Linked DNA regions of Homo sapiens. Each later gene encodes a partner of the first gene's protein in a complex. Each region holds a gene or a part of one and is shown in the gene's direction. Other genes may lie near its edges.

The links.
Region 2: the proteins of YWHAB (region 1) and PEAK3 are in contact, whole or in part, in a cryo-EM structure (PDB 8DP5), measured with the Homo sapiens proteins. Residues at the interface, in NP_003395.1 of Homo sapiens: Val48, Lys51, Asn52, Arg58, Lys122, Arg129, Tyr130, Gly171, Leu174, Asn175, Val178, Glu182, Ile219, Leu222, Asn226, Leu229, Trp230; in NP_940934.1 of Homo sapiens: Arg66 (codon at 243), Thr67 (codon at 246), Gln68 (codon at 249), Ser69 (codon at 252), Leu70 (codon at 255), Pro71 (codon at 258), Thr72 (codon at 261), Arg73 (codon at 264).

Annotation. Positions count from the first base shown.
Region 1 is NC_000020.11:44,881,328-44,888,783, forward strand, and holds the start of YWHAB (14-3-3 protein beta/alpha), read left to right. Parts: upstream 1-4,377; 5' UTR 4,378-4,559; intron 4,560-6,320; exon of another isoform or gene 6,321-6,415; intron 6,416-7,456. UniProt on the Homo sapiens protein: Adapter protein implicated in the regulation of a large spectrum of both general and specialized signaling pathways. Binds to a large number of partners, usually by recognition of a phosphoserine or phosphothreonine motif.
Region 2 is NC_000019.10:2,274,119-2,279,242, reverse strand, and holds the end of PEAK3 (protein PEAK3), read left to right. Parts: intron 1-129; coding exon 130-659; intron 660-2,753; coding exon 2,754-3,563; 3' UTR 3,564-4,612; downstream 4,613-5,124.

The DNA of each region.
Region 1 (7,456 bases):
AAGCCTGCCATAACAAAGGGCCACAAACTGGGTGGCTTAAAACCACAAAAACATATTCTCTCACCATTCTGGAGGCTAGAAGTCTAAAATCAGTGTGACAGCAGAGTCTTGCTCCCTTTGAGACTCTGGGTAGAATCCTTCCATGCCTCTTCCTGGCTTCTGGTGCTGCCCAGCAATCCTTAGTGTTCCCTGGCTCACAGCTCATCACTCCAGTCTCGGCCTCCATTGTCATGTGTTGTTTCCCATGTGTGTCCTGTCTTCAGATGGCATTTTCCTCCTTCTTTAGGGCACCAGCCACGTTGGATTAGGACCCACTCGAATGACCTCATTTTAATTGATTATACTGCAAAAGCCCTTTTCCAAATAAGGTCACATACACAGATTCCAAGGGTGAAAGCTTCAGCATATCTTTCTGGAGGATACAAGTCAATCCTTAAGAATAGGTTAATGGGCCAGGTGTGGTGGCTCACACCCGTAATCCCAGCACTTTGGGAGGCCGAGACAGGCAGATCACCTAAGGTCAGGAGTTTGAGACCAGCCTGGCCAACATGGCAAAACCCTGTCTCTATTAAAAATAAAAAATTAGCTAGGCATGGTGGCACACACCAATAATCTCAGCTACTTGAGAGGCTGAGGCAAGACTCACTTGAACCTGGGAGGCGGAGGTTGCAGTGAGCTGAGATCATGCCACTGCACTCCAGCCTGAGCAACAGAGTGAGACTCTCTCTGGAAAAAAAAAAAGAATAAGTTCATGCATAAACACAATATGGTAGATTCATACAAGGGGATTTTTTAAGCAATCAAAAGAAATAAGTTATCAAATCATAAAAAGACATGAAGGAAACTTAAATCACATTACTTAATAAAACAATCCAGTCAGAAAAGGCGACATATGTGCTGGGTACAATGGCTCACACTTTATTACCCAGCACTTTAGGAGGCCAAGGCAAGAGGATTGCTTGAGCCTGGGTGTTCAAGACCAGCCTGGGCAACATGGCAAAACCCCATCTCTATAAAAAATACAAAAATTAGCTGGGTGTGGTGGCACACGCCTGTAGTCCCAGCTACTAGGGAGGCTGAGGTGGGAGAATCACTTGAACCCAGGAGGTCGAGGCTGCAGTGAGCTGTGATTGCACTACTGCACTCCAGCCTGGGTGACAGAGTGACACCCTGTCAAAAAAAAAAAAAAAGAAGGAAGGAAAGAAAGAAAGAAAGAAAGAAAGAAAGCGAGCAACATATTGTATGATGTAACTATATGACATTCTAGAAAAGGTAAAACTATAGTGTAAAAGGTCTGCGGTTGCCAAAGGTTGGGGTGAGGGGAGGGAGTGAGGGATGAAGAGTTGAAGCAAAGATTTTTAGGACAGTAAAACTTTTATTTATATACATGACATTATGCATGTGTCAAAACCTATAGAACTATGTACAACATAAAGAATGAACCCCAATGTAAACTACGGACTTTAGTTAATAATGATGTATTAATACTGGCTCATCAATTGCAACAAATGTACCACTCTAATACAAGATGTTAATAATAGGGGAAATTGTGTGGAGGAGGGAGAGGGAATGTGGGAACTCTGTAATATCTGGTCAATTTTTCTGTAAACCTAAAACTGTTCTAAAAAATTAAGTCTATTGGCCAGGCACAGTGGCTCACACCTGTAATCCCAGCACTTTGGGAGGCCATGGCAGGAGAATCACTTGAGGCCAGGAGTTTGAGCCCAGCCTGGGCAACATAATGAGACTCTGTCTCTACAAAAACATTTTTAAAAATTAAGTCTATAATTTGAAAAAAGATTCACTGCAGTATATAAGGCTCTAGTATCACTTCTTTAAGGAAATCTTTCCTGCTCTCCCATCATATTCCCAAGATGGGTTAGGTGCTCTTCTCCCAAGCTCCCATAATACCCTGCACATATATTTATTTCTATGGTTGCACCTACCACATTGTATTTTAACATTTATCTGTATCGCTGTCAGTTCATAGCTGTGGTTTGCTGACGCTTGGCCTAGAATGCAGAGATGGTGAAATAAGCTAATCCATTGAACCCTTTAACAGGCACCTAGGAATGCCTGACAAAGGGCACTTCTGTTCCCTCAATGCACTGTTGATGTCATTTGTGGTATAATCATTATTAGCCCTCTGGTCCATTAGGCTATTTTCTGGATGACGGCATAAGGCACAGTCTTGTGACATTAAAAGTTACTTAGCCTGAGTAGTCTCTAGATTACTGGTCTAGGGTCTGCCAAAGACGATCCTCATGGGGAAGTTTTTGCACTAACCTCTCCAGGATTCAAATCCAATGGTTTTGACCCAAAACCATGCTGTTTACGTTACACAACACGTTCTCAATCTTGTTCAACTTAAAAGGTGGCACAGTACAGGGGTCACTGGCACACATGCCTACATGACAGATAACATAAGTGACAAAAGCAGACTCAGGTCGAGAAGGGTCCCTGGCATTTGGGAAAGTCCATGCCCAGTCTAGAACAGGCAGCCACTCCTTGGCTTCAGCCAATTGTTGCCACACAGAAATGTGGACACAGTGTTACCAGACAAGGCAGAGAGGCAGATTTCTGTTCACACAGAAACTTTTCAGTTTAAAAAAGTGTTGGCAACTAAGTCAAACTGCTTAGAAATACTGGAGATGGCATATTGGGAGGGTAAGGAATCATCCAATTGAATTGGGGTATTTACGATGGGGGAGAAATAGCAGCTAAAGGATAAGGGCAGCTTTTGGAGAACCCTGATTGTCACACTCAAGGAACTTATATATTGTCATCTAGGTCTGAGTGCACACTAAATAATTTAAGCAAGAACAGGACACGATTAGAATGGTATTTTTAAAAGATCACTTGGCAGTTGACGGGCGAGGCTGAGACCAAATGGTGAATTAGAAGTCTGTCATTTAGCTAAGTAAGGGTAAAGGCAAGACGGCAAAGGCCTATTTACTTGGCTTTTTCTCCTACCCGACTGCAAACTCCAAGACAGCAGGGCCCCACCTGCCTTGTTCATTGCTGTGTCTCCAGCACTAAGCAAAAAGCCTGTTCAACATTTGTTGAAAGAATAAATGAACAGGAGAGAGGGAAGGCGAGAGGCATTTTGAAGGACTGAGTTTAAAAATCAACTACCTTGAAGCCGGTCGAGGTGGTTCATGTCTGTAATCCCAGCACTTTGGGAGGCTGAGGCGGGTGGATCACCTGAGGTCAGGAGTTTGAGACCAGCCCGGCCAATATGGCGAAGCCCCGTGTCTACTAAAAATACAAAAACTAGCCGAGAGTGGTGGCATGCACCTGTTATCCCAGCTACTCAGGAGGCTGAGGCAGGAGAATTGCTTGAACCTGGGAGGCAGAGATTGCAGTGAGCCAAGATTGTGACACTGCCTGGGCGACAGAAAGAGACTCTGTCTCAAAAACAGAAAACAAAACAAAACAAAACAAAACAAAATCAACTACCTTCAGAGGAGTAGAATGTTGGTAATTGTGAGAGCAGTCATGGAGGGGAGGGGAGCCATGGAGGCCTGTTTCCTTCCCTGAACTTCCTCAACGAGGGGGCATCTTAAAGAAGAAATCATGTACACAGATTTTTGTGGGTTTTTTTTGGAGACAGGGTCTCACTCTGTCTCCCAGGTTGGAGTGCAGTGGCATGACCATAGCTCACTGCAGCCTACAACTCCCGGCCTCAAGCAATCCTCTCACCTCAGCTTCCCAAAGTGCTGAGATTACAGGCGCGAACCACTGCGCTCGACCCTACACAGGTTTTTTAAAAAGACGTTTGTGCATTGGATTCCTGGCACTTCACGTGGCCTCTTCAGTCTACCAAAGAAGGAAAAGGTAAGTACCCTGAAGGATTGAAAGGATTAAATGAACATTGAGGGATGAGCAATTTCTGTTCTTCCCTGGCTCCAGCATTACCAAAGCACACAGTAAGAGGACTGACATCGGCCTCCGACCCAGTGAGGATTACTTTCGGGGTGGAGGGGGAACTGCTAAACCTCGAATCTCCGGGACTGGCCCTGGCGCGTTTCCAGTCCCAGCAGAAAGGGCAATCCCCATCCAGACCACACTCCTAGTCCTCCTTATTCCCACACAGCCCGTATCTTGACCACCCCCAGCTCCGCCCTCTCTCCTCCCACCTCCTTTTCCCGCTCCCCCGCCCCATTTCCTTCTTCTCCGCCCACCTCCTCCTGGGTCCCTCCCCCGGCCATCCGCCCTGCCCCGGCCCCTGCAACCCTGCCTTTCGCTCTTCTTCCTCCTCCCTTCCGTCTGCGCCCCTCCCGTGGGGCCGTGGCAACCCCGTGCCTCGCTTGCCCAATGAGAACACGGTTTGGGGCGGGGCGCGGCCAGGACCGGAGCGGAAGTGGCGATCGGAGCGGAAGTGGAGCTACCGCCACCGCCGCCGCCGATTCCGGAGCCGGGGTAGTCGCCGCCGCCGCCGCCGCTGCAGCCACTGCAGGCACCGCTGCCGCCGCCTGAGTAGTGGGCTTAGGAAGGAAGAGGTCATCTCGCTCGGAGCTTCGCTCGGAAGGGTCTTTGTTCCCTGCAGCCCTCCCACGGTGAGTGCGGCGCGGGGTCCGACCGGGGCCCCCGGGGGCCCAAACTCGAAGCCCCTCTCTGGCTGCTGCGACGACGGCGGCCCAGTGGGTGGGCCCCGTGGGGTAGCGGCGCGCTGCCTCTTTCGCTCCGCGCGGCCGCCGGCGGCGAGGCCAGACCTCGCAGCGGCCCCTCCCTGTTTCCGGGGCCGGGCCCTTTACCTCTTGGAGAGGCTCGGGCCGCCTGAGGTCCTGCCGGCCGGGCGGGGTGCAACTCCGTACTGTGCCGTAAGGGACAGCGGAGCCGGGGATCCCGGACCCTCCCTCACTATCTGCTTCGGGCCCCACGCGACCCCTCCCTGCGTCTTGGTCGGCAAGAACGTCCCCTTCAGCCCTGTCACCTCTGCTCCGTGCTTTCTGGTTTCCAGAAATTAAAATTTAATCAAACGCGGATGAGTTTTCTAGCCCCAGTCCCCGTGTTTGGCTCCTCCTGGATGAGTAAGGGGTTTAACCTTGGGAGACAGCAGTGGGGGAACCCCCTCCCATTTTGCAGTAAAACCATTTCATCATCCTTCACTGGTTATGGAGCCTGGCAGGACCCAAGATTCCCTAGGAAGGGAATTGGGTTTGAATCAAGAAAATCTGTTTGTTGGAGCCGGTTACTGAGTCAGGCCGGATCCCCAGGAAAAAATATCAGGGGGTGAGAATCGGAGTATTTTCTCACAGTATTTACCGTCATTTAATGCCAGATTCTTTTGTGTCTTTACCCCAAATTCCCCCATATTGTGTGTTAGCACGTTTTTCGGTCTGAAATTTGCCCGGTGGCTTCCTGGTCGGGGGGTGGGGAGCGGAGGGAAGAAGAGGTGGGAAGGTGAGTGCATCTTTGCCGCAAATGGAGAACTCCCATATAATGGGGTTTTCAGAGGTGGCAGCCTTGGTAAGCAATTTGCCAACCTTTCTGTAAAATACATGTTTCTTGTCGTTGCCTTCATTGCATTTCTCTTTGGTAAGGCTAGATAGCATCAGGTCCTGATTTTGCTTGCCCTGTGTGGGAGATGGAATTTGGCAAGATGATGCTATGAACATAAAATCAGCCTCGGGAACCAAAAGAGAAAGGTGAAGCACTTATAAGAATATGAAAATTGTCTGCATTTCTCATTCTGTCAGTTCATGTGAAGCCAGACACAGATGCAGTTTGTAGACCTGGACACTGCAGCTTTTGCATTTTCATTTGGAAATGTGTATAAGTATTTGTTCTTGGTGAATTTCTTCTTGACTGCTTCCAGTGTACCCTATTTCTTACTTAGGGATATCTCATTTGTTTGAGCCCTCATTTTTCTTGGATCCCTGTCCTTGGCAACACACGGTGTGTGAGTGTAAAACCTGTCAATCTTATTGGACCTAAGTTAGAAATTTAAGTGTGGCTTTCAAAATGGAAGGCTAATAATCCTGTAGCAACTGCAGAATTATTTTCCTGGCCTGTCCTTCCAATGAGATAAGAAACCATTCACCTATCTTGCAGATGAAGTCTTTATGAGAAATGAGGTGATTTGGCCTAGACTATACACCTAGTTTTTTTCAAACTGAATATCCTCATTCATCAGTAGCAAATATTTATGGATTGCCAGCCCCTGGAGTATGACGCCTACCCTGTAATCTTTTGTACATTTCACATCTTGCAGTGCTTGTTATATTGAAGCCATTTTAGAATTGGAGCGCTATAGATCAGGGAGGCAGCCTCTATAAAACCAGGCTGAGCAAATTCCCATGATGCTGGTTCTCTAGGCAGAGTCTCCAGAGATTTGGGCCGCTACAAAAAGTGCATTTTGCCCATTCGGCTGTGGATAGAGAAGCAGGAAGAGCACTGGACTTGGAGTCAGGTAAATTTGGTTGAAATCTTGCCTGCAATATTTTCTAGCTTTCTGAATCTTCAGCATGTTAATCTCTGGTTCTTGGTTTTCTTATTTCCAGGGTTATCATTAAGCCTTTTTTATAAACTGTAAATTGTTAAATATAAGCTTTTGGTTTGTTTTTTAATCAGAGTTCACTATTAATGGCTTTTTCTCTCCAGTTAACATCTGATGACACTAAACCCTGCTTTGTACACATGTTGCTTTCAAAAAATGGTATATTATTATAGGACTTTATTTTGCATATAGGCAAATCCAGTCTTTCTGAATCATTTTCTCGTCTATATAGCACAAATGGTAATGCAGCTTTTGATATATTTTTGTTGCGACAAGCTCAATAATGAAAATAAGCATCTGGGATATAGTTGGGGTTCAATAGATGTTATTGACCATCTGCATGAATATACACGTGTATAGATTAGACATAGCATATATGCTATTCATGGACATTTATATAGAATCCATCCATTTGTGATTTATTCACCAACTGATGAGGTGGTATCAGACAATTAGTCTATAATAATAGTTACCACTTACAGTACTTACTGTGTGCTAAGCTTTCTTTTAAGCACTTTAAGCATATTAGCTCAGTCTTCATAACAACCAATGAAAGGTAAGACTGTTAGCCCCATTTTACAGATGGGGAAACTAAGGCACTGAGAAGGATAATTTTCCCGAGGTCTCACACACAGCGCAAGGTAAGTGCCAGAACCAGGAATGAAACCAGGTGATCTGGTTCTGAGGAATGATATTATAGATTTCTGCATGTGGTAGAGACAGCACATGTATATGTTTTATGTGAACACCATTTAGTCCTTAATTTTTCTTTACACCAATCCTAATAAAGTAAACGTTTGAATGGGAATATTAGCTATTTTTGAAGATAGATACAGGACAATTTATTGTGGAGCATATACCCATTCTGGCCTGTAGGGATGATAATTGCTAGCATGCATCAGGAAGCAAGCTTGTGAACAATCCAGTTTTTCTAGTACTTGCTTCATACTAGGG
Region 2 (5,124 bases), on another chromosome or scaffold:
ATGAGCCACCGGCGCCCAGCCTCATTACTTCCATGTTAGAGATGGGGAAACCGAGGCTGAGAGGTGGAGTCACGTGTCCCGTTCCCACTCCGCCTGTCCTCAACCCTCCCCCACTGTCTCTCCCTGCAGGTCAGATCCGTGCCCACCTGCTGCCCTCCAAGGCCTGCCGCCTCCGGACCCCTGGGTCCCTCTCCACCAACCCAGAGCCCCTGCCCCCACCCCTGCCCAAGAAGATCCTAACCCGGACCCAGTCACTGCCCACCCGCAGGACCCTCCATCCCAGCTCCATCCAAGTACAGCCGCCTCGGAGACCCTTTCTGGGGTCCCACAGTGTGGACAAGAGCCAGGCTGCAGTGGGACCAGCCTGTCTCCCTGCAGAGCTGACCTTTGGCCCGGCTGACGCCCCACTGGGCCTCTCCCTCCGCGATCTGCACAGCCCGGAGGCTGTGCACACTGCACTGGCTGCGCGGCAGCTGCAGGGCCTCCGTACCATCTATGCCCGGCTCCGTGCCCGGCTCATGGGGGGCCACCCCGGGCCCTGCCACCCCGGCCACAGCTTCCGCCTCCTAGACAGCTCACCCTGCGCAGAGAGCGGGGACGCCCTGTATTACCGCGTGGTGCGCGCGCACGAGGACGCCTGGCACATCCTGGTCGCCAAGGTGAGCCCCACAGCCCCACCCTCTCTGAGGTGTCCCCAGTGCCCCATCTTAGACATAACCCAGGGCTTGTTTCATTTGGCCTTTCTGTGAGTCAGTTCTCACACTGCTGTAAAGAAATACTGGAGCCGGGCGCGGTGGCTCACGCCTGTCATCCCAGCACTTTGGGAGGCCAAGGCGGGCGGATCAGCTGAGGTCAGGAGTTCAAGACCAGCCTGGCCAACATGGTGAAACCCAGCCTCTACTAAAAATACAAAAATTAGGTGTGGTGGCGGGCGCCTGTAAACCCAGCTACTTGGGAGACTGAGGCAGGAGAATTGCTTGAACCCGGGAGGCAGAGGTTGCAGTAAGCCAAGATTGGGCCATTGCACTCCAGCCTGGGCAACAGAGTGAGACTCCGTCTCAAAAAAAAAAAAAAGAAAAAGGCCGGGCACAGTGGCTCACACCTGTAATCCCAGCACTTTGGGAGGCCGAGGCGGGCAGATCACGAGGTCAGGAGATACAGACCATCCTGGCTAACACGGTGAAACCCTGTTTCTACTAAAAAGACAAAAAATTAGCCGGGCGTGGTGGTGGGCACCTGTAGTCCCAGCTATTTGGGAGGCTGAAGCAGGAGAATGGCATGAACCCAGGGGGCAGAGCTTGCGGTGAGCCGAGAACGCACCACTGCGCTCCAGCCTGGGCGACAGAGCGAGACTCCGTCTAAAAAAAAAAAAAAAGGCTGGGCAGCACAGTGGCTGACGCCTGTAATCTCAGCACTTTGGAAGGCCAAGGCGGGCAGATCATGAGGTCAGGAGTTCGAGACCAGCCTGGCCAACATAGTGAAACCCCCATCTCTACTAAAAATACAAAAATTAGCCGGGCGCGGTGGTGCGCACCTGAAGTCCCAGCTACTTGGAGGCTAAGGCAGGAGAATCACTTGAACCTGGGAGGCGGAGGTTGCAGTGAGCTGAGATTCGAAAATTGGGCTATTGCACTCCAGCCTGGGCGACAGAGTGAGACTCTGTCTCAAAAAAGAAAAACAAAAGAGAAGAAAAAAGAAAAGAAAAGAAAAAGGAATACTGGAGACTGGGTAATTTATAGAGAAAAGGGCCTTAATTGGCTCATGGTTCTGGTGGCTTCTGCTTCTGGGGAGGCCTCAGGAAGCTTCCAATCATAGTGGAAGGCGAGGCGGGAGCAGGCATCTCACACGGTGGGAGCAGGAGGAAGGGAGGGAGGAGGTGCTACTCACCTTTACACAGCCAGATCTCACGAGAACTCACTCGTTATCCCAACGACAGTGCCAAGGGAGATGGTGCTGAGCCATTCATGATAAACCACCCCCAAGATCCAAGTCGCCTCCCACCAGACCCCACCTCCAACACTGGGGAATGAGATTTGGTGGGGACACAGATCCAGACCATATTAGACTTGTTTATTTTGCAACTAACACGTGAATCAACGCAGTTAACCCAGGAAACCATGTTTCTAAAGTATGGGGCCATGGGTATGGCCTTGGAGCTCTTGTCAAAACCCCTCCCACACCTCTCTGGCCGGGGATCTGCTTTTGTGTTTTTTGTTTTGTTTTTTGTTTTTGAGACAGAGTCTCACTCTGTTGCCCAGGCTGGAGTGCAGTGGCGCGTTCTCGGCTCACTGCAACCTCCACCTCCCGGGCTCAAGCGATTCTCTCACCTCAGCCTCCGAAGTAGCTGGGATGACAGGCGCGCCACCACGCCCAGCTAGTTTTGCATTTTTTAGTAGAGACGAGCGTTCCCTGCGTTGGCCAGGCTGGTCTCGAACTCCTGACCTCAGCGATCCCCCTGCCTCCCAAAGTGCTGGGAAGGCGTGAGCCACCGCGCCCGGCCCAGGAATCTGCTTTCGAACTCATTGCCCAGGAACATCTTCTTCCCTGGCTTAACTTTCCTGAAAGTCCTTACTGGTGACTAACTTCCAAATTAACACTGACCTCCTGCTGCTGGAGGGATGCAGGCAGCCCCTAGCCGTAGTGGGGGCAGTTTGGGGGTGTGCGTGGGAGGCTTCGGGGCAGGTAGCACTGGGGCAGGCGGTGCTTGTGGGGGGCCCAGTGATCCAGGCCCCGACACCCCCTCTGCCTTGCAGGTGCCCAAGCCCGGGGCGGACGTGCCCCACCCGTGGGGCCTGGAGCTGCAGGCCTCCCTGTCTCCACACTTCAATCTGCAGGGGCTGTGTGGCCTGGTGCCTGAAGGCACACTGCCCGGGGCGCCCTGGAGAGGCGCAGTGGCGCTGGCAGCCGAGGTTCCAGAGCGCACGGTGGCGCAGTGGCTGGCGGAGGCCTGCACGCAGCCGCCGGAGGAGTTCGTGTGGGCTGTGGCCCTGCTGCTGCTGCAGCTGAGCGCGGCCCTGAAGTTCCTGGAGGCGTGGGGCGCGGCCCTAGTCGAGTTGCGGCCGGAGAACTTGCTGCTGGTGGCACCTCGGGGCTGTGCGACGACGGGGCCCCCACGCCTGCTCCTCACTGACTTTGGCCGCGTCTGTCTGCAGCCCCCTGGACCCCCGGGATCCCCGGGCCCCCACGCGCCGCAGCTGGGCAGCCTCCTCCGAGCGCTGCTCAGCCTTGCTGCGCCCTCGACCACGCCTTTGGCCGCGGGCCTGGAGCTCCTGGCAGCACAGCTGACCCGCTTGCGGCCCTCGGCGTCCCGGACGCGGGGCGCGCTGCAGGCGCTGCTCTGGGGGCCCGGGCCTGAGCTGCGCGGCCGCGGAGCACCGCTTGGTCCCTGGCTCCGAGCGCTCGGGCCCTGGCTGCGGGTGCGCCGCGGGCTGCTGGTCCTGCGCCTAGCAGAGCGGGCCGCAGGTGGGGAAGCTCCCAGCCTCGAGGACTGGCTGTGTTGCGAATACCTGGCCGAGGCCACCGAGTCCTCGATGGGCCAGGCCCTGGCGCTGCTGTGGGACTGACCCCAACCCAGGGCGAACACACCTGGTCCAGGCCTGCCCAGGAGGCAGGGCTGGGGCTGAGGTCAGCGTCTCCATGATAGCCAAGACACCCTCTTCCTGCAGAGTCCAGGAGCGCAGCAGAGAGAGCAATGCCCCACTCCAGAGCCTCCCCTCCCGTGCTGGGGATGTGGGTCAAGGGCTTCCCAGGAATGCAGCTGCCCCTCCAGGGCTGGGGGCTGGCCAGCGCCTCCTGTGTTGGGCAGCAGCTCTCTGAAGCCAGGGCCCCCACGCCACTTCCAGGTGTGGACAACCCCGCTGATCAATGTCTCTCTGTGTTCTGCCTTCCCCAGCAGCCAGGGCGCTCTTCCGCGTGGGTTCTGTCATTGTCTCCATGAGAGGCCAATGCCGGGACCAGAGGCATTCCTGGCTCTGGAGCACCCCCTTGTGCTGAAGATGGCCAGTGATTTTGGGCATGTGAATGCCCCTGTCCCTGGTGGAGAATTGCTTGGTGGTGTCACGGGAAGGGAAGGCTCCCTGGGACCTTAGACACCCAGCTCATCTCAGCGGGGTCTGGACTCACCTTCCCTAAAACAGTCCCCGCGGTTCCCTGCCACCTCCCCTCAATCCCTCTGCGCCCACCCTGCCTCCCTCCCTGTTCCTCCGTGACACACCAACTTCTTTCGCGCCCCCAAGCATTTGTGTAGGCTGTTCCCTCTGCCATACTGTTCCAGTTCCACTTTCTTTTTCTTTTTTTTTTTTTTTTTTTTTTGAGACGATCTCGGCTTACTGCAAGCTCCGCCTCCCGGGTTCACGCCATTCTCCTGCCTCAGCCTCCCGAGTAGCTGGGACTACAGGCGCCCGCCACCACGCCCGGCTAATTTTTTGTATTTTTAGTAGAGACGGGGTTTCTCCGTGTTAGCCAGGATGGTCTCCATCTCCTGACCTCGTGATCCGTCCGCCTCGGCCTCCCAAAGTGCTGGGATTACAGGCGTGAGCCACCGCGCCCGGCTACAGTTTCACTTTCTCTAAACAAATAAAGGTGCCCACTCTGGGCCATCGCTAGCTCCTTACCCTGCGTTCTCCGCCCACTCTCAGGAGCATTTATTCCTCTGTTACTGTCCACAAGGCTGTGAGTTCCCTGGGGGCAAAGGCCAGGCTTGGCACACAGTAGGTGCTCACTTAATACCACAGGATGATGTAATAAACAGGCACAGAGGAGACTCACTGGAGGGGGATGGAGTCTTCCTTTATGCCTCTGACACACTGCACTGCCCTTGCCTGTGGCTTCCTTCCTGGAGACTCAGAGTTGCCCCTCCATTCCATTCCCCATGGCAGTCCTGGGAGGATCTTTCCAACCCCAGATATGAGGTCCCTCTCCAGCTCAAACACCTCCCATGGCTCCCCAGTGCCTCAGAATACATACAGGGCTCTTCCAAAGTCTCCTCAGAGTCTCCAACCCCATGTCGTTCATCCCTGGAGGTTACTTTCCAGCCTCCACGCCTTTGCCCAAGTTGTTTTTTACACCAGAAAACAGCCCCCTCTACTCTGCTTCATACTCCTATTCATCCTGCATGGCCTCAGC